Linked DNA regions of Homo sapiens. The protein of the gene in region 1 interacts with the protein of each later gene in a biochemical or structural test. Each region holds a gene or a part of one and is shown in the gene's direction. Other genes may lie near its edges.

Region 1 (3,500 bases):
AAGTGTTTGCTATTATATTATTATTATCACTGCCACCACCGCTTTTGCAAGCAGCAGAAGGTGAAGAGGTTAGACTGAAGAAAAAACTTCTGTGCTCATCAGCCCATAAGCTCGCAGAGCACAGGGATCATGCATCTATGTTTTCCTCAGTCAGTGTCTGCCAGGCACTGGCAAGGAAAGGCTGTTACCAGGGGGAACTCCAGGAATTCCTCCTGGCACCTAAGGAGGCTGGGGAGACAGGACTAGGGAAAAGGTGCCCTTGAGACACCTTCTGAAATCATCCCATTGCCTTCCAGCTTCTTTCAGCTCAGGCTGGCTGGTCAGGGAAACGCTTTGTGCCATAGTGTCTGCCCTCTTCCTCCTCCTGGCTTCTCCATTCTCTCTGGAACTTGTGGCTTAGGAAAGCAGTGAGGTGGAGGAGGAGGAACCCTAGATCAGCAGCTAGAATTGACTGGAATGCTGCTGCTGGCTTTCGGTAATTGACACTGGGCCATTCACCTTCCTCCTTTGCACCTCAGTTTCCTCATCTATAAAAGGGAGAGGGTTGAGCTGAATCAACTCTAAGCTCCTTCTAGTTCTCTAAATTCTGAGAGCCTCCTAGTACAGCCAGCAGCAGCCATTAGCCTTCAGGGTAGAGAGGCCTCTTCTGGGAAGCCCCAGCCAGCCTGGGGGTCAGCCCAAGGAGCTCGGAATCTAAGTTGCCCCAGTTGCTTCACTTTACCAGCGGTTTTTCTTCATTTTCCCTCCTCCCCCTGCAGCTGCTTCAGCTTCGGAAAAGTTCTGAAGTCATGGAAAGTTGGGGCTGTGCTCCCAGCCAGGGGCTAGGCCGGATGGCAGCCAAAACCTGAGCTGGGTTTTGACTTTATTTTTAGCTTTTCTGACTGAGACAGAGGAGGGAATACATTCTCCGGTTCTGGAAGGGGCTCTTTTTTGCAGGAGACAGACACTTACATTAAACAACTTGTTCTGAGGTGTGGCCAGAGGCCTGGACTGAGCAAGTGTGCAGGCTGGGGGAGCTTCCTCTGGCTTCTCATGTCCTTCCCCTGCCCCTCTGAGTGTCACTCTATCCTCCTCCCTGCCTGGTGGGGGGAGGTGGGGGTGACTCCTTTTTTGGACTCTCCTAAGCAGAACACTGCCTGGGTCTCGTCCTCCAGAGCTTCTGCAAATCTAGCCTTCCCTATCCCTCTTCACAGTGAATTGCTGGGCCTCTTGGAGTTTAGGACTTTTGTGGTAGAAGAAAAATGTTGGCAGGGCTGCTTTTCTCCTTTCCAGGATAGATTTTTCCTTCTGCCCACGCTTGGTTTTCCTTTTTTCCATCTGCTGTGGTGGGCTCATGCTTAAGCACTGATGAGTTACAGATGGCAGCTGGAACCAGGTCCTCTGGATCTTTCCCTCCGCTCCCTGGGTCTGCTGCTTTCTCTCACCCTATATTTGTGAAGCAATTGTAACATCTAGAAAGTTCTTGGGTTCTCTGGAGGTTTTTAAGAAAATAGGACCTTTCTATTTCTCCAGTCCACTAGCAAAAATAATCAGGGGCCCAGAAAAGGTGAGGGAGGTGGCAGAGGCAGCGCTGTTCGACTGGTTATAGCTAAAGCTTTACCCACTTTGAGGAGCAGGGAGGCTTAAAGCTGGGGCCCAGATGGACCTGGAGGCCTGGGATCCACATCTGGAACCAGATGCTGAGGCTATGGTAGATGGGTAGGGCTCAGCCTTCTCCCAGGGCACGGATGAGGCAGGAGGGAGGGAGGCAGGGACCCCTCTGTTCAGTGCAGATCAGGGCACCCAGACTGGGTCCTGAGAAAGGAAAGGGTCAATATTGTGCCTGGTCATCCTTGTCTGAGGTCCCTCTGAGCTCTAACCAGACTTTCCTTCCCCACAGTCCCACATGTGTAAAAGGGACTAGGAGAGGTGACCAGTACCTTTGGGGCTCAGATCGAGAAGTGCTAGGGACATGTGGGCCATGAGCTTAGTTGTCAGGCTCCTCAGAGGGAGGGAAGCTTGGCCAAAGGGAAGTGAGTAGAGTCCAGGGAGAAGGCTAAGTAAGGCCCTGTGTGGGAAGGGGCAGGAGACAAAGGTACCCCTGTCTCTTTGGGAAAGAATGGGAGGAGAGAGAGGGAAAAGCATTCATATCACGGGGTAGAGCTCTGCCCTTGGCCCCAGGCACGTTCCTGAGCCCTGAGTCATGGGAAGGGTGGAGAAGCAGGAAGGGGGTTTTCAAGGACCTTGGGGAGGTGGGAGCCCAGCCCCAGAGGCAAGCAGATGCAAACCAACCTAATGCAAGGATGCCCTCTCCTGGTAATTGCAGGCATAGCAGCGCCAGCCCCCATGGCTGACCTCCTGGGAGCCTGGCACTGTCTAGGCACACAGACTCCTTCTCTTAAATCTACTCTCCCCTCTCTTCTTTAGCAATACCAAGAAGGAGGGTGACCTGATAGCTGCTCAGGCTCGGCTGAAGGACCTGGAGGCTCTGCTGAACTCCAAGGAGGCCGCACTGAGCACTGCTCTCAGTGAGAAGCGCACGCTGGAGGGCGAGCTGCATGATCTGCGGGGCCAGGTGGCCAAGGTGAGGCCACCCTGCAGGGCCCACCCATGGCCCCACCTAACACATGTACACTCACTCTTCTACCTAGGCCCTCCCCCATGTGGTGCCTGGTCTGACCTGTCACCTGATTTCAGAGCCATTCACCTGTCCTAGAGTCATTTTACCCACTGAGGTCACATCTTATCCTAATTTGGCTGCCAATGGGATCTACCACAGTGAATTTAAAATAATCCAGGAGGCCGGGCATGGTGGTTCACGCCTGTAATCCCAGCACTTTAGGAGGCCGAGGTGGGCCGATCACGAGGTCAGGAGATCGAGATCATCCTGACTAACATGGTGAAACCCCGTCTCTACTAAAAATACAAAAAATTAGCCTGGCATGGTGGCGGGCGCCTGTAGTCCCAACTACTCGGGAGGCTGAGGCAGGAGAATGGCGTGAGCCTGCGAGGCAGAGCTTGCAGTGAGCTGAGATCATGCCACTGCACTCCAGCCTGGGCAACAGAGTGAGACTCCGTCTCAAAAAAATAATAATAATAATAATAAAAATAATCCAGGCCATGTGTGGTGGCTCATGCCTGTAATCCCAGCATTTTGGGAGGCCAAGGAGGCAGGATTGCTTGAGTCCAGGAGTTTGAGACCAGCCTGGGCAACACAGACCCCATCTCTAGAAAATAAAAATTTAAAGAAATTAGCTGGGCATGGTGGTGTGCACCTATAGTCCCAGCTACTTGGGAGGCTGAGGCAGGAGGATGGCTTGAACCTGAGAGGTCGAGGATACAGTGAGCTGTGATTGCACCACTGCACTTCAGCCTGGGTGACAGAGGGAAACCCTGTCTCTACATAAATAAATACATAAAATAAAATAATCCACAAGCCATTTCTACTTAACTTTGCAATGAACTGTACCTGACCCTAGATCCCTCCCAGTTTGGCCCTCCGGTATACAAGGGCCTCCTAT
Region 2 (3,500 bases), on another chromosome or scaffold:
ATAGGTCTCTGCTGGTGGTTCTGAAGCCAAACCTCTGATCTTCACATTTGTCCCCACTGTCAGAAGACTACCAACCCATACTCAGTTGGCTGACACCTCTAAATTCCTTGTTAAAATTCCAGAAGAATCAAGTGATAAGAGTCCAGAAACTGTAAATAGGGTAGGATTATTTTTATTCTTTTTTAATTTCAAACAATTATATTAAATTTTGATAATGATGACTTGGAAATTTGTGTATATTTCCTGTGCTTAAATTAAGGTGACTGTGACTCTAAGTTTGACTAAAAATATAATAATGCAACAGAAGCATAAATGTTATCAAATTGCATGTTCTCTCTAATGCATTATCTTCAATTTTTTTCAGTTTGACATCCTATTGTTTGCTATTGACATGACAAATTCTGCCTCCTGGCACATTCTCTCAAATGTTTCTTAAGAAAATAAAAACAAAATTTAAAAATGTTTAAATTTATCTCAAAAGAAAATATAAGACAAAACAGTGAGATATTATTATTTACAGGTAATGAATTAGCAACATTAAAAAATGTAATACCTGATGTTGGGAAAGTTGTGGAAATATTGGCATGCTTACACTTTGCTGCTGGTTTTGTAAATTTATACAATTTTGGTGGAAATACTTTATCTATAGTTATAAAACTGTTTATAACCTTTCAATAATCTAACTCTTTGAAAAGTATCCCAAGGAAATATTACAAAAGAAGAAAAATGTTATGTAGGTAAATAATTAGGGAAAAATAAAAAATGCCTAATATCTAACAATCAGAAAAGTTAAGAATATAATAGTACCTCACTTTGGCAAAGTTATACTGATGGTAATTAGATAATTCCATGGAAAATGTTAACCTTACAATATTAGGTGATATAATACTGTGTTCATATCTTGATTGTACCTATCTAAAATGAGACCAAGATGGGAAGTGAAATTACACAAATTTAAAAATCTTGAAAATAACTTGTGTTAGAATAACAAAATTTTGAGTAAAAATGTTTTTCTCTTTAAAATGTGTTTTAACATTGCTTACTTATAAATAAAATGAGATTGGGGCAACTTTGTGTTATTCTTGACACAATTAGAAAGGAGTAAAATAATCAGATTCACCTTGTCTACAAGAAAACATCTTATCTAGAAAATAGTAATATTTCCATGATCCTGGGGTTTTCAATGCTGCTATCTTCTTTCAAAGACTAATGGGGCCATGAATACTATATATGGCACTTCTAGATAGTTTCTTTCCTACAGCACTCATTTACATAATATTAATGAGATCCTTTGTAATTAGGCCTTATGAGTGGTGTGAGACTGTAGCTACATAAACCAACCTTGGTTGCAAGCCTCCAGAGCTTCCTAAGATGATAATATTTATCTGCTGATTGCAATGATATATATACAACCACATCTTTAAAAGATTTTTCACCCTATCTCTTAGACAGTTCAACATTAAAATAGTGTAATTCCTCATTCATTTATATTCTTTTTTTTTTTTTTGAGACGGAGTCTCGCTCTGTCGCCCAGGCTAGAGTGCAGTGGCGCGATCTCGGCTCACTGCAAGCTCCGCCTCCCGGGTTCACTCCATTCTCCTGCCTCAGCCTCCCGAATAGCTGGGACTATAGGCGCCTCTGCCACCGCGCCCGGCTAATTTTTTTTGTATTTTTAGTAGAGACGGGGTTTAACCTTGTTAGCCAGGATGATCTCGATCTCCTGACCTCGTGATCCGCCCTCCTCGGCCTCCCAAAGTGCTGGGATTACAGGCTTGAGCCACCGCGCCCGGCTTCATTTATATTCTTAGCAACTGTTTACTGAACATATGTTATTCTCTTGATGATTGGATTCCAACTGAATAAAGACAATTCATATAGCTTACTTGTTATCGGGAAGGCAGGCAATGAAAAAAATGAAAAAAGTATGTAATAAAATCCATATAGTGATAAATACAATGAAAACAATATCAGAGTAAATAGGGAAAGATGGGCAGAGAAATTTTAATCAGAGGCAATTTGTGTTTTATCCTGACTATATCCTCATTATCAGCTGAATAATGTGGGTGTATAAAATCAACTTTTTAGTTATATTTAATCAGTGATTTGACTTCTGTCTTCATACATACAATACATGCACACACAGTACACATTAAATTGACCACCAGAGTTGAAATTATTAGCATATTTTCATTTAGTGGCATAACTCTCTATTTTGAAATAATTTTAGCCTTACAGAAAAGCTGCAGAGAAAAGAATAATAGTAACCATAGTGTAATAATAAAAATAAGAAAATTAACATTGGGTCTTTTAAACACAATCTCAGTATACATGGCTGTCATAGTTTTAGAAAAAGAAGTTTGGTAGCTTGATAAAGCTATCTTGATCCTGGTCTTGTAAACTATGTATTCACAGAAAATTGGATGGGAAAAGACTGAGAATTACAAATCCAAAATAAAACAGTGAAAGATGCTTTGTACTAAAAATATCTGCATCTTTTTTGGTGTTCTATTTATGAGTTCTCCCTAATTAACTTAGATTGTTTTGTCTGACTATGCATTTTGCCCAATTTTATTTTTCCTTTCAGATTTTTAGAGAGATTTTGTATTATTTTAGAAACTTTCAATGGGGATTTCCTTCCTCCCTTGGCTTTTAAAGGATATACAGTTTGCTTCACCATTAACTAAACCCTTGCCCAATCCCCATTTGTTTCACAAATGTCTTCACGGAAAACATTGCTCTCTCCCTCTCTCTCTTTAAAATGTCGTATCATGACTTACTTGAAAACAGTTAGGTTTGCCTGTTGATGTTGATTACTATCCCAAAATTGTTTGGGCTTAGACCAGGAAAAACAGGTGGGCTAGTGGGCTAGTAAAAATAAACTGCTAACTTCAACCCAATCTCTTTCTTATGTCAACCTAATTTAATATATTTTTGAAAATATAAGGAGGTTAAGCTTTTCAGTGTACATGCCAAAAAAGAAGCATTTATTAAACTAATGTCAATGCTTTTATCTCTCTACATCTATTACAGTCTAAATCCAATGACTACTTGACCTTGAATGCTGGGAGCCAACAAGAGAGAGACCAAGCGAAATTGACTTGTCCTTCAGAGGTCAGTGGAACGATTTTACAAGAAAGGGAATTCGAAGCAAACAAACTTCAAGGGATGCAGCAAAGTGACCTCTTCAAAGCTGAATATGTCCTTATTGTGGACTCCGAAGGGGAAGATGAGGCTGCAAGCAGAAAAGTTGAACAAGGCCCCCCAGGGGGGATTGGCACCGCAGCTGTCCGGCCCAAGTCTCTAGCTATCTCGTCCAGTCTGGTCTCTGATGTAGTGCGTCCCAAAACACAGGGGACTGATCTCAAGACCTCATCACATCCTGAAATGCTTCATGGGATGGCCCCTCAGCAAAAGCATGGGCAGGTAGGTTTTGTGTTCCTGCTGTCCATAAGGAAAAAAAAAGCGTTTATGCACCCTTTGTCTTGGGCGGTCTGCAAAGG
Region 3 (3,454 bases), about 74 Mb from region 1:
TGTTTTATAAATAAGTTATCTGAAACCTAAAGATTTAAAGTGGTTGTGTTGTCTAAAACCTACTGGCCTTCTTACTACCCCCAGAGCTCTTTGCAAGAGGCTGTCTAGCTGCATTTTCACTACTGAGAAACTGTGTAAGTAGTTCAGAGCATGGGCTCTGGGCTCAGACTGCCTAGGTTCAAGTCTTAGCGCTGCCAGTTATTAGCTGTGTGACTTTGGGGAGGTCACTGAACCTCATTTTTTGCCTTTGGAAGTGGAATTATTTATTTAGTAAGTGATAATTAAATGAATGAACAAGTATGAATAAGTAGTCCACTTACAAAGCCCTCACCCTGCCAGTATGATCAAGGACTTTGTGTTTTTGTCTGTTTTTCGTTTTGTTTTGTTTTTTTCTTTCCCTCCCAATTACCTTGCTGTAAAATTCACAGACACGCCATTCTACCTTCGGTCCTTGAGTGTTGCTATCATCTATAAAATGGTAAAATTTAAGATGATCACTTGTCAGAAATTTCTGAACTATTACATGAAAAGGATCATAACTTTGAAGAGTAGCATCGTCTGAGAGACAGAAACAAATTGCCTCTTTAGGAATGTACTTCCCAGTGGTTGCCTTCGTGAATCAGTTCTTCTGGTTAATAAAATATGTCCTCATTAGAAACTGTGTTTGCAGAGACACATTAACCCTTTCAGGTTATCAGGGTAGCAATAAATGATCAGCCAAATTCCAGGCCTGTCTGCTGATGCTCTACCACTGCTTTGGTTTTTTTCTACTTCTTAAAAGTAATGGCAAAATACATCTAGTATAAGGTGAATTTTACCAGCTTAACTGTTTTATGTGTGCACTTCAGTAGTAGTATATACATTCTTATATTGTGCAGCCATCACCACCATCTGTTCCCAGAACTGTTCATTACTACTGCTTTTTAGTTTCAGTTACTAGGGTTTCAAACTCTGTTCAGCCCACATTTAGTTGAAACCTGAATGGATGTGGTAAGTGTGAAGAGAACCTGTTCCCCCAGCCTTTTAGGTTGGTTTGATATTAGTCTGAGTCTCTTCTCTGGAAGTTTGGGTGGAGCATCAGATACAGCCAGGTTGGAGCTGGCTGCCACCCACACTCCTGTGCTCCAGATTTTAGGTAACCCTGAACTTCAGGGGAGAAGTGCATCTTTAGGGATGAGGACCAGTTCAACCATTCCAGGGCTGTTAGGAATTAAGTGCATATTGTGCTGTTCTTGACATAAATAAAAAAGGAATCTATTAAATGGCAATCATGAAATCACTTCTGCTCTTGGGTGATATGATGTGATCTAATTACTAGTGTAGGCTTATCAGTGGTCTGTTTTGGTAGTTTCAGAGCCTGCCTGCTGCCTTGCTCTGGGGTGAGATGGGGGTCATAGTGTTATGGTGAACGTAGTTGTCATTGTCCCACAGGGTTGGCATAGCTTCCAAGGTGATTGACGGTGTAGAAGAATTTGACACAATGGGCAGGCAGCTTATCTTCTTATAAGGTTTTTAAATTTAAAGACTCCAGTTTTTTAAAATGCCCCTGGTAAACATGTAAGCATCATTTACTGAACAGCAAAGCCAGCCTTTTGCTTTCATGGAGTTTTATTCCAGGTTTGTGTTTGCTTGAGTTAGCTTCTATTTCCCCAAAATACAAACTTTAAAAATATGAGTATTTAAAGGTTTGACTTAGTAATAAAATTATATTTTAAAAGTGAATGTCGATTTTTTTCTCAATTTGGAGGTCAGTTTGAAATTACTTGTTAGTGCTTCCCAAGGCATTGTTGGCAGGTGGTGCGGCTTGATCTCTGCCCCCAATTGTTCTCACAGAGGTTTGCCTTTTTCCTCAGGTGACCTTATATCCAGCTGTGAAAAGTCTGCTGCAGGAGGGCATTTACCTCATCCTGGACCTCTGCATCGAGCCTGACGTCCAGTTCCTGCGGGCCTCGCTGCAGCCGGGAATGAGAGACATCTTTAAGGAGCTCTATAATGACTATCTCAAGTACCACAAGGCCAAACATGAAGGAGAGAAAAGATATACGGCCTAAGGCTATGGGACAGAAGTGCCGCCAGTGACACTGTCCAGAGGCTTTGGCTGCATGGTCTGAAAGAGCTGGAGAATGAAAGACTTAAGATGTTCTAATTCGTAGTATTGGTATACATAGAAAATCCTTTGGGGTTTATGTAGTATATTTTGATGTATTTTACATCGTGTTTTTCTTACTATTTTTTAATACATAGTTTTATGCAGTAAGTATTGCAATAGAATCCTGAAAATTGACCCTGGGATGAGATTAATTCAATAGAAAAATTGCTGACTCTTGGGACCTTTCTGTGTTTGGTTCTCGTCTTGGCTCAGTGGTTTGGTGTTCCCTCGTCTGCACTGGAAACTACATAAAACTTGGCTTTTTACTTTGGGTACATGGGCGTATAATTCAGCCCTGTTTAAATATACTTGCCTTTCAAATTCTTCAAGTAACATGGGAAGTATTCTTGAAATGTCACATTTTCTGCCTTCCCTCTAAGTATGCTTTCTGAAGAAGTCAGGGAAAGTTAGAGTCTGTGGCCTGAGGTGTCTGCTCTGGGTGGCGATAGTGGGCACCTCAGGCAGGTCGGTGACGTTTAGCACAGGTGCCAGGGCTCCTGCCTGCTCCTCCTGTGTTAGCTCTGTGAAGTTCATTTAGGAATTTTTTTTTCCTATGCAGTTTAAGAAATAATCCTAATTGTTTTTTCTTATTACCTAAGCAATATATTTTTATTATAGCAACCTCAGAAAAGAAAAATAAAAGGATAATTTAAAAAACTCATTCATAGTCTCAGTTACCCAGATAACCTCGGTTGTCACCTTGGAGTATCTTGTTGTAGTCCCTTTACTATGTGTATGTATATAGATGTGCATATAAATATATATAGTAGCTAAATTGGATCATAAATGCATTTTTTTAAAGTTACCTTTTTTCCTGTGTAATATTTTAAGTAACTCTGGGTCAGTGAAAACATTCGACATATATTTTTTTTGGCTGCATAGTAGTCCATTGAGTAGATATTGTTGTTTTATTTAATAAGTACACCATGGTTAGACATAGGTATCTGTCCAAATTCCCTTTTATAGATGGTGCTTGCAGCTGAATTATTTTCAGAAGATGAATTCTCATGAGTTGTATTATTTGTCAGAAAACCACATCATTTTTAAAGGATTTATATAAATATTGCCAAATTGCCCCCTAGAATATTACTAATTTATTTTCCTACTAGTGAGTCAACTTTAATATTATTGATTTTTGTTTCTTTATGCTTCCTTGATAGGAGAGAGATGTTATTCTGTTTTGAATTTCTTTAATTACTAAGAGATTATACATTTTTCACATTTACCATTTTTATTTCTTATGTAAATTATGTTTATATAATTATCTTTCTTCTGTAATAGCACATTTCTCAATTGGGATATTTA
Region 4 (3,500 bases), on another chromosome or scaffold:
AGGCACAATGCCTTTTAGCTGGAGCAGTCAGGAGAGCGTCACAGGAGGTAGCATCTGTGCCAGGCCCTGAAGCCCAGGTAAGACTGGTTACATGTATGTGGGGAAGGACAAGGCAAAGCGGCAGGAAATTACATCTCGAGTGGGAAGCAGCACCTTCATGGAGGAAGGGGAAGATGAGAGAATGAAGTTTGGAAGTGTTGGTTGGGCCCTACCATAGATGGCCTTGGATGCCAGGCCACCAGAGCTTGATCTGGCAGGCAGTGAGGGCCAGAGAGGCTTTGAGCAAGGGAGTATCATGCTGAGAGCCAGGTGCCAGGAAGGTGAATGCGGCAGCAGCTTGAGTAGCACAGTTAAGCAGAATCATTTTCAAGTGTTATTGACAAAACAACTGGATTGGGAAAGGGAGAGGAGGAACCGAATCGAGAGGCCATCTACGTGGTCCAGGCAGGCCTGGCAAGGGCAGGAAGAGTCCTAGTGGGAAAAGGAGGATGCTAGAAGCCACCTGTGTCTCAGGGGACCCCTGGGGTCAAGATCAACTTTGAAGTAGGAGGATCTGGCTGTGTTAGGGGAAGGCGACAGGCTTCAGTTCAGTTTCAAAGTTTTAAAATATGACCTTCAGCTGCTCCCTTCCCCAGCATGCAGAAACACACTCACTGGCCACCCGAAGTCCCCCAGGCTGTGCTGGGTCAGGGCAGTCAGGCCACGCACACGTGTTAAATAGTGTATGCGTGCGTGGCCCTGCACCCTCCCTGCTCTCGGGGAGTCAGGCAAACCACAGCACAGGAGCGAGGACCAAGGGCTATGGCAGGTCACCAAATCTGGGGCCATTTCATCAAACAAAAGGCCCCCAGGGGCTGAGGGCTTCCCAGGGGAGATGGCCCCTGGGCTGGACCGGGGAGGTTGGGCAGGACTAAGTGGGAGGCTGCCAGCTCCATCCTATGGGAGCAGGCCTCCAAAGCCACTCGGGGGAGCTGCCCCTTGGCGTGCTGTGCTGAGGCCCCACTGCCCAGCACACAGACATCCTCTTCCTCCAAGGGGCCCCTCAAGACAATAGACCTGGCATTCCAGGTCGCCTGCCTGTGTCATGAGTCAGAATCCCCGTGGTGCCCATGGCCTCCCTGCCTTTCTTTTTTCTCAGGCTGTGTTTATTTATAGTGCCATTCCGGTACCTTCCGAAGCTATCTGTCTGATTCTTTTAGGGATCAATTGCAAAGAGACCTTGCTATTGGGCAGCTTTTTAGTCATTTAATGCAAAATGCCACACTGCTTTGCAGGTCAGGTTTTAATGATCTGGAATCGATCCAAGCTAAGTGGCTTTTGATCTTGCTGCAGAGTGAAGATGCCCCACAGAAGCCAGGAGCCGCTGGGCAACATGCTCCTTATTAGAGCTGATGGCTTGATTCTTGCTGCATTTTTTAGTCTGTTTCAGAGTGATTTTTCCTTTGTGTTTGAGCATGTGTGGTTTTTTTTCTCCTAGGTAATTTTGAGTGTGGAAATCCAGAGAATCTAAAAAGCAAATGCATTCCTGTTATGGAAGCCCAAGAATATATAGCCGTAAGTAGGCTTCAGTGCTTATACATTCCTGGGAGGGCCTGGTGCTTTCCTATTGGTCTTTCAAGCCCTGTTGGGGTTTTTGTTTTTTGTTTGCTTTGTGGCTTTTGTACTAGGCTACCTTAAGTTAAGGTTTGGTTTATGGCTTTTTGTGCTAGACTACCTTCAGTTAAGGCAGCCATGGTAGTGACTGCCCCAGAGCCAGGCCGCCATGTGCAGTGGGGCGGCTCACTCCTGACTGCTGCACTGTAGGTGTGCCTGTTACCTGCTTCTCCCTTGGTTCACTTTGCTCGTCTTGCCTTCGGCTTTCAGGAGAAACATGCTGTCCCTTCTCCCCCGTATGATTACCATTCAGACTGCCCAGGGGCCGTCTGATTTCCTGTGTGGCCTCAGGATGGTAGATTATAGAACTATGGAGCTGGTATTCCAGGTCGCCTGCCTGTCCAGTAACTTAGGGGTCATCTGGTTCCATTTGCATTTCACAGATGAAGAAACTGAGGCCTGGAGAGGGTCAGGGACTTGCCTGAGGCCAGACCACTTGCACCGGCCACTGGGCTCACCCACCCCCAGCCACAACGCTGTTATTCGCTTTACCCTAAGATGAGCTGCCAGCTCTCTGGCCTGATGCTTCCATCCTCGAGAGAATCATATTCTTTTGGCCGCCTCAGACCCGCACTGTTTTCCTGCTTGTGCTTCCGCATCACCTCCTCTGGTTATAGCCTCTTCCTTGGCTTTCATCAACCCCCGATTTCCTTCCTGCCACTTTGCTGTGCTTTTAGCAGAACAGGGTTTTGGGGCTGTGGAGGACACGGGAGAGGGCTTCCTTAATCCAGCAGCAGAATAATGTTCCAGCTGCTCCGCCCAGACGCCGAACTAACCTTCTCCCGCGCCCTCCCACAGAATGTGACCAGCAGCTCCTCCGCCAAGTTTGAAGCCGCACTGACCTGGATACTGAGCAGTAACAAGGACGTGGGCATCTGGTGAGTGTGGGCAGGGTGGCGACGCAGCATGGGTGCCTGCAACCACTGTCCTCGCTCGTCAGCTAACACCCGTGCTCCAACAGAGCTGTCTCAGGTCTGAAGCTGGAGGCTGGGTCTCCCAGCAGAATCATGTGGGTTAGGATGGAAGTGGGGCAACAAAAGCAAGAAGCATTTGGAATGCAGTGTAAGGAGCAGCTTCAAGATGAGACACAAAATCCAGGTGTTAGGATGTTAGCCTGGTGTTCCAGCTAAATCCTGTCTCAGGTAACTCAGTCTGTGCCTTTCTCATTCATCAACAACACCACATGGTTTGTTGGGGAAGGCATTTTTCTGCACTTCCCCTCCTCGGGAGCTAGTTTTTATTTGTAGATGAAATTATTCTTTCTGTATGTTGGTTTTACTTACTATGGAAATCGCATAAGGAAATACTGGATTTTATTCTGACCAGGCAGTTTCTGCCTCATTTTTATCACTGGTGAGCACTGTTAGAAAAGGTAGCAAACCCTTTCATGAGGCTGAAAGGCTGTATCTGGCGGCTCAGCCCAGGGGGAGGGGCGTGTCAGCCAACAGCCAGGCAGCCTTGAGAGACCTGTCCCCTGCTGGCAGAGCAGCATCACTTCCCCACTTCCCACTCTCGGTGTTTGTGGGGGTCTCTGTTCAGGTTATAGCTCTTGATATTAAAACGTCTCTAGAGTTTTGTTCTTTTCCTCTCTAATCCACCCAAATTACTAATTCCATCAGCACTGCATCCAGCAGAAGCCCCTCGGGCAGCTCCACCTCAAGCTGGATAACTGGATGCATGGCACGATTAAAATTTGTTGGCTTAAAAAAAAAAAAAAGCTGCCCTGAGTAGCTGAGCAATTTTCCTGTGTTAGAAAAGGCGGAGGAGAATACGGATTTTATCCTCAGCAGCAGCGCTCACTGAAGCTGCTAACACAGAAGAATGATGACACTCACCTTTTCATGTTG
Region 5 (3,500 bases), on another chromosome or scaffold:
CCAGTTCCTGAGCAACCCCCACTTAGCAGGAGCCGGCCTAGCGCTGTGCAGGTGTAATTTACTGGCCTGCTTGCCGACTCCATGGGAAGCTGTTATGATGACCCTCATCCCCATGTTACAGATGAGAACACTGAGGATGGAAAGGCAGCTGGCAGGTGGAAGAATCAGGACCTGAACCTTTGGCATCTGTCAAATCGCTGTGCTTTTCACCTCTACTGTAGGCTGCAGTGCAGGAACTTGACCCTGCAGGCATCGTAGAACCAGGGGGGAGCCCGGGGCCAAGGCATGCTGAGACCTCCTGGTGGCTGGGGGCAGTGGCTGGGCTGGATGCTGGGAAACCTGTGAGGCTGTAATTGGGCCTGAAAAGGGTAAAGAGTGGCCCGGGGGTACTGAACAAGACGGGGCAGGCATTGCAGCAAGAAGGACCCTTGTTGAAACGTATCTTCCTTGGGAGGCTGAGATGGGTGGATTGCTTGAGCCCAGGAGTTTGAGACCAGCCTGCGCAATACGGCGAAACCCCGTCTCTACAAAAAATACAAAAATTAGCTGAGTGTGGTGGTCCACTTGTAGTTACTCAGGAGGCTGAGGCATGAGAATCGCTTGAACCTGGGACGGGGAGGTTATAGTGAGCCGAGATCGAGACACTGTACTCTGGCCTGGGTGACAGAGTGAGACTCTATCTCAGAAAAGAAAAGGGGGGGTGGCAGCGGGAAGAAAAGTATCTGTCCTAGTATGATGAAATAATATTCACAGCTTCTGTGTCTGGGGCACCTACTTAGTACCAGGCACTCAACAGGGGTTACCCCATCAAACTGACACACTCAGCCTGTGAATGCCTGCTGCTTGCTGGAGCCAGACTGTCTGGGTTTAAATCCAGGCCGTGACACTTAGTAGCTGGGTCACCTCGGGCAGCTGGTCTTCAGTTTCTTTAACCGCCCTGGTCTTCAGTTTCCTGGAGTGTGCATGGGTGTAATAGCGCCGCCCACCTCACAAGGCTGCTGTGAGGATCAAATGAGTTCACTCGTGTAAAGCTGCCTAGGCTCCCAGTAAGCATGATGGGAGCATCTGCAGTGATTATTGGTGGTCTGCAAATGGGGAAACTGAGGCTCAGAGAGGTTAGGCTTCTGCTCAAGGTGACCAGCATTTTAAGAGGCAGAGCTGGGATTTGATCCAGGCCATCTGGCTCCAGAGCTGTTTTTCTTGATCATCCTCCAAGGTGCTGAAGGTAGCCCTCTGGAAATCTGGGAGGTGCTGTGTGCACATGGGTGGCGAGGGTGGAGAGGGGACAGTGGTGGGAGGTGGCTTCTGGGTCTCTCACTTGGGGTTCCAGTCACCCAGGCCCCCAGCGGCTCCTCCTCTGACCCAGTCCCGGGAGGCCCTGGCGTTTCCCTTGGTGCCAGGGGATTGTTTTCAACTTGGTCTGGGCCCGCCTCAGGCTCCGGGAGACAGGCCCAGGCGTCACACTCCCTCCTGTCTCCCCATTCTCGTCTGCGGGGTGGGGGCGGCCAGGATTCGAAAAGGCCCCAAAATAAATGGACCTCTTATCTGATCTCCCCGCCAGGCCTGTTATCTGATCATTACATAATGGCCAGGCTTGTGGCCTCTCCCGCTGGCTGACGGCATGGAGGAGGCGGCCCCAGGCGGCCCCAGCAATCCGGGAGGAACTGGGGTTCCTGGAAGTCTGGGGAGGGGGCAGGGAAAGTCCCAAAGGGAAGGAGGGAGGCGCTGCGATAATCTGCAGGCCAGACACTGGGTCATGTTGGGAGACGCGGGTCCGAGGCCCGGCCTGGTCAACCATGTGCTGTGAGACTTTGACCTGTCCCGTCCCTCCAGACCTCAGTCTCCCCATCTGAGTAGGAGGGGCTTAAGCTAGGTAACAGCCAAGGAACCTGCGCTCACCGATGAGGAAAGGAGAGGGTGGGGAGAACATGGGGGCTGGTGGGTCAGAGGGACTGGAGACAGGAGATGGCACCAGCCCTTGATTTTGTTGGGGTGAGGGAGATCCCAGTGACCTCTCCATCCCAGAGGACCGTCACCTGGAGGCCACCCCATCCCGCCACTTCACCCCACCCCTTAGAACAGTCAATTCTACAGTGACTGAAGTCAGTCAAATAATTGTAATTAAGAGAAAGCTGCCGGCCAGGCATGCTGGCTCACTCATGGTGGCTCACACCTGTAATCCTAGCACTTTGGGAGGCTGAGGCGGGAGGACTGCTTGAGCTCAGGAGTTTGAGACCAGCCTGAGCAACATAGTGAGACCCAGTCTCTACTGAAAATTTAAAAAATTAGCCAGGCGTGGTGGCGCACAACTGTAGTCCCAACTACTTGGGAGGCTGAGGCAGGAGGATCGCTTGAACCCAGCAGCTCAAGGCTGCAGTGAGCTGTTATCACACCACTGCACTCCAGCCCAGGAGACAGAGGGCAACCTTGTCTGAAAAATAAACAAATAGAAATTTAAGAAAGAATTGCCATGTGCCCAGTCTCATGGAGTCCTCCCAGCCACCTCTGTGGATCATGTGGGCTCTGTTGTCATTTTATAGACCAGGTATTGAAGCCCCAAGAGGTGAAATCATTCACCAGAGCCACATAGCTGGTAAGCATTGGGCCTGAGAGGCAAACCAGGTCAGCCTGGCTCCAGGGAGCTTGCTTTTAACCAAAATGCCACTATGTCCAGGCACTCCAGAGTCCCTGGGACATGTAGGATAGGGTCAGAGAGACGACATATAAGGCCTGGGCCCCCGTGGCAGCCAGAAGTCCTCATCCAGATCTTCTCCTTCCCAAGACAGAGCTGGGAATGGCGTTGCCATGGCAAGGGGTGACCATCTCACTTCCTTTGCTGACTTCTGGGGCCCAGAGCCCAACGTGCTGTGGGAAGGTGAGGAAGGAGGCCGGTGAGGCTCCAGACAGCCCAGGGTTCAGAAGAAGCCTCCCTGCCCCCTCCTCTGAGCCGGCCTTGGCTGGACATGAAGCCAGTCTCTCCGCGCCCATCTTTGATCTCCAAGAAAACAGGAAGTGAGCGCGACAAGATGGAGACACAAACTTCCAAACAGTCTCCCCTTCTGTCCTCCTTCCCTCCTCCGGAGCCCCCTTCCCCCGGCACATTCCTCAGGACGAGGTGTAGGAGCCTCATTTCCTTTTCCGACCCTGCTGGGTCAGGGTGAAATTCCATTCCTTTCCCTCAGGACCTGTGTTTCCGGGCTCTGCGGTCTGCTCTGGCAGCCTCCAAACCTGGGCCGCCTTCTCGGCTCGCCCTGTCCCTTGGGGCTAGGGAACTCTCAACCCCTTCAGACCATTCCTCCCACCACCTTGAGGCAAGAGAGGGGAAGCTTTGTCTCCTGAGCTCAGCTCCTGCCTTACCTGGAGGGAGACTTGGGTTCACACCTAGGCCCTGCCATGAAGTTAGGGTTGCCAGATACATCAAATGAAAATCAGCCGGGTGTGGTGGCTCATGCCTGTAATCCCAACACTTTGGGAGGCCGAGGTGGGAGGATCTCTTGAGT
Region 6 (3,500 bases), on another chromosome or scaffold:
GGTAGTATTACATCCAGCCATTTAGGCATATTTATTGGATGACCACTCCTGTCACAGGATTAAAGTTTAAAAAAAAAATCTGTCTTTAATAGACATTGACTTGGACCTAAAACCATCAGTAATCTAGGTTAAATATTGGCGTGAAAGCAAAAGTGACAACAGAAGGACACTCTACTATAATACTGATCATTGATGGATGTTCTGTAGTTAAAAGAATTTAAAAGAATCATCTGGTAATAGCGACTTCAAAACTGAAAACCTTAAACTACTTGGAATGCGGAATTTCGGGCCCTACAGCTACAGAATCAGAATCTGCATTTAACAGAAGCTTCAAGTGATTGATAGGCACATTACAATTTAAGAAGAACTGATCTAATGGGTTTTAAACCAGTATGTAAGAAATGCTGGATTCTTTAAAAATGATCAGTGGAACATAGAAATTAATCTGAGACTGAGAATTAATCTGAGGCAGCTGTTTTCTGTCTTTCTGTAGTGACATGGATAGCATTGAGATTTGAAAGTGACGTTAGGCTTGCATATTCATTAAAGAGTGACCACAGGGTTTTTGTGGCTACCTAATTTTGTATCTGTTTCCAAGAAAAATTTGACACCTGAGAATTTTTTAGTTCAAATAAGCTATATGTGGGATTATAATTTAAACTGATTCTACTAAAATGATTATAACCATATGAAAATAATAATGTTTATGCTAACAATTACAAAAGTTTGTATTTTTGTTTTAAAAGGAAACTGACTTATAATAGATGACTTTTTTCTAAGTCATGATCAGTCTGCTTTTTGTTTAGACAGAGATGTAGCTCCAATACTAGAGCCAAATAGCACACAGTGAGTCAAAAAGGGAACTGGTGATAGTTGATGTGCTTTTTTTCCCATAATGTTTATAATTTGTGAGCTACTATAGGTGGATTCTTTAGTGTATTTTAGCACTTTTTAAGTGTTTCCTGATGCCTAAATATCAGTTCAATTAATACATTTAGGAATATTTTGAGGACATAGCCTTGTTTGTAAATGCTGGCATTTGGAGACTTCTATTTCATGGCTTCTCAGTGTGCCAGTATGGCCGTTATTAAAGTATTTGATGTTAGAATATGACTTTTTAATGTGTTGATGCTTGAATAGAGCTATTCTCAAGCTGGAATAACTGAGACTGAATGGACAAGTGGATCTTCAAAAGGCGGACCTCTGCAGGCATTAACTAGGGAATCTACAAGAGGGTCAAGAAGAACTCCAAGGAAAAGGGTGATGCAAGGCTTATTCCTTGGGTTTTCAGATTTGTAGGGTTTTAGTATTATTTTATATTTATTGTTTTTGTTTTGTTTTCAAACTAACAGGTGGAAACTTCAGAACATTTTCGTATAGATGGTCCAGTAATTTCAGAGAGTACTCCCATAGCTGAAACTATAATGGCTTCAAGCAACGAATCCTTAGTAAATATGTTTCATAAACTATACAAGTGGTATTCTTTGTAAATTACCCTTTAATTGGAAATGGGGAGGTGGTGAATTTTGGCAAATCTCAAATTTACATGTTTTTTTTTTTTAACAATTTTAAACTGATTTTCCCCATATAGTTCTGAATTTTAGAATTTTCCTATAATATCCAATTTATGTAAAGAAATCTAATTCATTGTACAAGAAAGTATAAGGATATTTTTTGTTAAAATATTTGAAGAATGAGGCTTCATATGTGAGGCACTAAGTTGTGTTTGTAGGCTGTGTTGCTTAAATCTTTACTAAGGGAAAATTTCTAATATTACAGAGATAAAATATCTTTCTTTTCTTTTTAAGTGTCTGTGTTATGTTTGGATAATTCTGAGTCTGAATAATTTGAATCTTGGCAGGTTGTCAATAGGGTGACTGGAAATTTCAAGCATGCATCTCCTATTCTGCCAATCACTGAATTCTCAGACATACCCAGAAGAGCACCAAAGAAACCATTGACAAGAGCTGAAGTAAATGAATACAATTTAGATCGATGCTATCATTGATCTTTCAAAGAGGAAATATAAATATTTGTTTGTTTTTTTTTTTTTTTTTTGGAGTGGGAGGGAGCAGAGCTTTCTTTATTGGGTGGTGTGTGTAAATATGCATAAATTATTTTAAGGACACTTTTATTAGTGAAAACAGAAATTAACTAATATAGTTTGACATGCTAATACTATCCTCTTGCCACTGTATCCCTCTTAAGTTCCAGTTTTCAAGGGAGTGGTCATTTCTGTTCTGCTTATAATATGTTCTGTTTGTCATGGATGCAAGTTTGAAAGTGCTGCTGGGCTATGAGGGAGGCTACACTTTCTTTTGTTGACGGGTCAAATAAGAGACTTTAACATAACTTCATGTGGTGCTGGAATGGGTTAACTCCTGTGTAATTAAGCTTGAAAGTACTAACTGCATGGTGCATTTTAATTTGAATGAATCTTTACAAAAGGAGCCGAAACATTTATTATTTTGTTCTGGACATAAAGGTAAACAGTAAAACAAGCTAAACATTATATTTTTTTTAATTTGGGCATATTGCATTGACTATAATTTTAAAACATATAGTAAAGTTTGCTAAAGGTTCATGTTAAGTATCTTCTGTATTTTATCTTTTACTACAGAATTCTTAATAAATGAAGAAACAGTATACTTTTTTTTTTTTGAAACGGAGTCTTGCTCTGTTGCCCAGGCTGGAGTGCAGTGGCACGGTCTCAGCTCACTGCAACCTCCGCCTCCTGGGTTCAAGCGATTCTCCTGCCTCAGCCTCCTGAGTAGCTGGGATTACGGGTGCCCGCCACCACGCCCAGCTAATTTTTGTATTTTTAGTAGAGATGGGATTTCACTATGTTGGTCAGGCTGGTCTCGAACTCCTGACCTCAGGTGATCCACCCGCCTCAGCCTCCCAAAGTGCTGGGATTACAGGCGTGAGCCACCGTACCCGGCCCAACAATATACTCTTAATAGTAAAAAACAAAATCAATGAGGGAATTAGCATTGCCATGTTAGATTACTGAATTTTTTCCCCCCAGTTATTTAAATGTGTGGCAGTTTTTCACTCCAATAACCACATATATAAGGTATCTTCAAGAAATTTGAAGAGAGCCTTGGAAGCATGTGGATACCTAAATAATAATTTAGAAATGGCAGCTGTAAAATCTATGATAGATTTAAAGGCATTTTGTTCTCTAAAACTTACTATTTATGTTTTAATTATTGCATGTTTACACTAAATTTTAACTTGTGGTTGTTTGTTTGTCTGTTTCTTATTAGGTGGGAGAAAAAACAGAGGAAAGAAGAGTAGAAAGGGATATTCTTAAGGAAATGTTCCCCTATGAAGCATCTACACCAACAGGAATTAGGTATTCAGATACATTTAAACAAGTACTAGTGTATTCTAGTAGGGAATCTTTATTTTTAATTCTTCATCACAAAGTTACTGTACTTCTGCTCAGAATTAAGCTGTTTTTTTGGAGCCAGGTACAATGGTACATGCCTGTAGTC
Region 7 (3,500 bases), on another chromosome or scaffold:
GTCCAATTTTGTACAGCCGCTACTTTATCATATTTAATACATTTTGTGACTTGGGCATGTGGAACATAATTTTGTTATTTTCACTGCTTTTACTCCCCTAAAAGATTTGGAATATGTGTGGGAAAAGACATGCATAACAGAACAAATGAAATTAGAATGAAGAAAAACAAAAAAAAAAAAACAAAAAACCCTCAGAGCTAAATGAAGAAAGAAATATGTAGGTGCTTTGGAAAAACAACAACAAGACAAAACTCAGAAAAAGTCCTGGCCTTTGAGTGCAAGATTTAGCTCTGGGCCTCTTGGAAGTGAAGGCGATGGAAAAGTTATGACAATTACCAAAGTTCACCATCTTATAATAGTATACTGATTTCTACTGTTAAATGTAAGAGAAATTTAGTGCACAGGTCTTTATATAAGGGAAGATCCATTTGCTGTGGCTCTTAGAACTGCTGTAGGAAGTGCTATAGTTGTCAATCACATGCCGTTTCTAATAACTGTCAACATTTGCAAACATTTCGCCAAAATATATAGGAATACCAAAATGGCCAGGTAAGTTACATTCCTAGGAGAGGATGAAGTATTCACGTTATGATTAATTGGGTATATTGCTTTAAAAGGTGTAGCCAAAGTTGTTATTCTAAAAAATTCTTTGAGTCAGTTGCCTTGATTTTGCTAAAGCTTTCTAAAGAAAAGGATGTTTTGCATGTATCTTAGTTTGAATTTAATATTCAGTGTTTCAGAAATACACCAAGTACAGTAAGCATGACATGAACAAAGTTCTGGACCTGGAGTTGAAAGGTGACATTGAGAAATGCCTCACAGCTATCGGTATGTAGTCCAGCAGTTGAAAGAGTTTTCTAACTAGAAATTGTATTTTCAAAGCTATCCTATACTTAACAAGAACAACAGCAACAAAACCAATAAAAGAAAACAAAAAACAATCAGAAGTAGTGCATCTGTTTCAATTGAAGCAACGTAAAAGATTGGCAAAGTACTATAACCTTAATAACAATAGATATTATTCCCCTTTTCAAAAATAGAGAGAGATAGACTATACTTATTGAGCACCTACTTATATCAAACAATGTACCAGGCTGGGCACACCACAGAGGCAATTCAGAATGGTCACTGAGAGCATGGGATCTGGAATAAATGTAACATCTGGATAAATGTAACTTCAAGTCCTGGTCTACTGCTTGTTAATTGTACAATCTTGGGCAGGTCCAGGAGAGTCTGATTCAGTGGGTCCGAGTTGGCCTCTAAAAATCGGTACTTTTTAAAGATCTCCCAGGTTATTCAGACAACCATCAGGGTTGGGGAACCTATGTTCTCAAGCAGTGTTTCTCATTCATGACTATGCACTTGAATCCCCTGGAAAGCTTGTTAAAATGCAGATTCTGATTCCCCAGGTCTGGGGTGGAGCTTAGATTCTGCTTTTCTAACAAGCTCCCCATTGATGCCAATGCTGTTGGTCCATAGATCTCGACAAGATGAAGAACACTATGAACTGGAATGTGCTAGTATTATTTGGGTTCTGTTTTATATTTAAGCCCATCCTATCCCAGAGTTTTTTCTTCATTTATTCATTTATTTTTACTTATTTGTTTGTGCAACTCTTACTTTAGACACAGAGGTACATGTGCACGTTTGTTCCATGGGTGTTCTGCACTCAGGCAGTGAGCATAGTACCCAATAAGTAGTTTTTTGACCAATGCCCCTTCTCTCCCTGCCCTCTCTAGTAGTCTGCAGTGTCTGTTGTTCATAGGGTGTTCTTTTTAAATGTTCTTATAGTAACATAAATAAAGTATTTACATAGGCTTGAACACCTAGTGGCTTCTCCACTCCCAAGGAGAATATATGTTGGATAGCGCAAACTACTGAAGTTGCTCTTGAGATGTATTTAAGGTAATAAAAAAATTGATCGTCAGGGAAAAGAATATTCAAAACCACCATCTAGAGAGTCACAAATACCTTCTCAGAAGTTAACTGCCCTATATTGGGAGATGAGAGGTGAAGAATGATGATGAGGGATAGAACACTGTTGGCAAAATTCTATATTTCCTGTTTCTTTCATATGGATATTTCATTTTTTTCATGGTAAATACATCAACTAAAATTTTCTTCTCTAACAGTGAAGTGCGCCACAAGCAAACCAGCTTTCTTTGCAGAGAAGCTTCATCAAGCCATGAAAGTATGTACCATTCTACTTATATGTCCTGCTTAGAGGAAGAATTATTTGTAGAAAGAACAGAAAACCTCATGTTGTTTGAAAATCTCACATTTAATATCTTCCCATTAATGAGAATCATTGTTCTATTTGATGAAAGAGGTAATACACTACCTTCTCAGAATAAACTTCTGTTAGATTCGGTGCTTTTTTTTACAGATGAGATTGTAAAGTGAGCCTGTAAGTGATTTACGGCTCACTTGTGATTTGCTTAAAACATGTGTCACCACGGGAAGGGTGATGTACTTTCTTTTTTAACGTGTAATTTTAGTGGCCTACTTCCTCTAAGGTTGTGAGTTTTATAATCTCCCACTTTATGAGTCTGATTTGTTGTTTTTATTATTCTGTCTTTTATGCCACAGATTAATAGTTGAAACTTTTGAAATGTCATTCTATGATTAAGGATGTAGAATGATGTATTTGAGATCAACTATGTCACTTTAACTTTACTGTCTGACATGCATGGTATTATACAAGGTACCTCTTCTATTCTGACATTTTGAGCCCACAAATGAATAGTTATGAAGTTATCTTCCTTTTTTCTTTGCAGCTCCAAAATAAGGAGGTTTTCAGAGAGAGAGAGAAAGAAAGATCTAACTATTTGAATAATATGAAGGAATATTTTGAATATATATGAATAATTTGAATAATATGAAATGATAGACATGCTAGGTACTGCTCTGTAGTGGTTAGCATAGTTGCTGCCCCCTTTCTGCCATAGTCTAGTGTGATATTTCGTTGGGTAATGATGAATACCTGGTGCCATGGAAGAGAAAAGTGGGACATATACTCCAGACTTTGGAAATCCAGGTAGCATTGCTGTCAGCTAAATTAACACCTGAAGTTTAAATAGAAATGAGCCAGATGAGGGCAAGAGTGGAAGAGATGGGGATAAAGCAAGGGTGGTCCAAGAGGAAGAAGTAACCCACACACAGGCTTGAAGGCAAAAGGTAACATAACCTTCTCAAGACAGTAAGTATAGAGTGATGGTGCACACTGGAAGAGATGGTAGAATTAGGCAGGATATTGTAAGCCTTGAAAAAGAATTAGGCAGGATATCGGAAGCCCTGATTAGATTCTATCCTAAGAGCAACAGAAGATCACTGACAGTGTTTTAAATAGATAGACTAGTTTATTAGATTTGCAGTTTAGAAGTTCCCTTTTTTTGTAATTATTGGACAGTGTAGAGACCGGATGGTGAGAGATGAGTTAGGAAGTTGTGACAGCTCTCTATACCTACCGCTAATGTAGAGGATTATTTATTTTCATTTCA

What was found.
Region 2: the proteins of LMNA (region 1) and MLIP form a complex in vitro, tested with the Homo sapiens proteins (one study listed by BioGRID).
Region 3: the proteins of LMNA (region 1) and URB2 form a complex in vitro, tested with the Homo sapiens proteins (one study listed by BioGRID).
Region 4: the proteins of LMNA (region 1) and LEMD2 interact in far-western blotting, tested with the Homo sapiens proteins (one study listed by IntAct).
Region 5: the proteins of LMNA (region 1) and ENG interact on a protein array, tested with the Homo sapiens proteins (one large-scale study listed by IntAct).
Region 6: the proteins of LMNA (region 1) and TMPO interact in far-western blotting, tested with the Homo sapiens proteins (one study listed by BioGRID).
Region 7: the proteins of LMNA (region 1) and ANXA1 interact in a test that uses a peptide from one of them, tested with the Homo sapiens proteins (one large-scale study listed by BioGRID).

What each region holds. Positions count from the first base shown.
Region 1 is NC_000001.11:156,128,211-156,131,710, forward strand, and holds part of LMNA (lamin), read left to right. Parts: intron 1-1,616; exon of another isoform or gene 1,617-1,639; coding exon of another isoform or gene 1,640-1,698; intron 1,699-2,406; coding exon 2,407-2,563; intron 2,564-3,500.
Region 2 is NC_000006.12:54,121,443-54,124,942, forward strand, and holds part of MLIP (muscular LMNA-interacting protein), read left to right. Parts: intron 1-4; coding exon 5-160; intron 161-3,030; coding exon 3,031-3,423; intron 3,424-3,500. UniProt on the Homo sapiens protein: Required for myoblast differentiation into myotubes, possibly acting as a transcriptional regulator of the myogenic program. Required for cardiac adaptation to stress through integrated regulation of the AKT/mTOR pathways and FOXO1.
Region 3 is NC_000001.11:229,657,247-229,660,700, forward strand, and holds the end of URB2 (unhealthy ribosome biogenesis protein 2 homolog), read left to right. Parts: intron 1-1,853; coding exon 1,854-2,051; 3' UTR 2,052-2,954; downstream 2,955-3,454. UniProt on the Homo sapiens protein: Essential for hematopietic stem cell development through the regulation of p53/TP53 pathway.
Region 4 is NC_000006.12:33,779,131-33,782,630, reverse strand, and holds part of LEMD2 (LEM domain-containing protein 2), read left to right. Parts: intron 1-1,477; coding exon 1,478-1,554; intron 1,555-2,451; coding exon 2,452-2,531; intron 2,532-3,500. UniProt on the Homo sapiens protein: Nuclear lamina-associated inner nuclear membrane protein that is involved in nuclear structure organization, maintenance of nuclear envelope (NE) integrity and NE reformation after mitosis.
Region 5 is NC_000009.12:127,844,659-127,848,158, reverse strand, and holds part of ENG (endoglin isoform 1 precursor), read left to right. Parts: intron 1-1,023; exon of another isoform or gene 1,024-1,216; intron 1,217-3,500. UniProt on the Homo sapiens protein: Vascular endothelium glycoprotein that plays an important role in the regulation of angiogenesis. Required for normal structure and integrity of adult vasculature. Regulates the migration of vascular endothelial cells.
Region 6 is NC_000012.12:98,543,090-98,546,589, forward strand, and holds part of TMPO (thymopoietin), read left to right. Parts: intron 1-1,140; coding exon 1,141-1,260; intron 1,261-1,352; coding exon 1,353-1,448; intron 1,449-1,861; coding exon 1,862-1,972; intron 1,973-3,269; coding exon 3,270-3,358; intron 3,359-3,500. UniProt on the Homo sapiens protein: May help direct the assembly of the nuclear lamina and thereby help maintain the structural organization of the nuclear envelope. Possible receptor for attachment of lamin filaments to the inner nuclear membrane.
Region 7 is NC_000009.12:73,165,365-73,168,864, forward strand, and holds part of ANXA1 (annexin A1), read left to right. Parts: intron 1-732; coding exon 733-828; intron 829-2,132; coding exon 2,133-2,191; intron 2,192-3,500. UniProt on the Homo sapiens protein: Plays important roles in the innate immune response as effector of glucocorticoid-mediated responses and regulator of the inflammatory process. Has anti-inflammatory activity.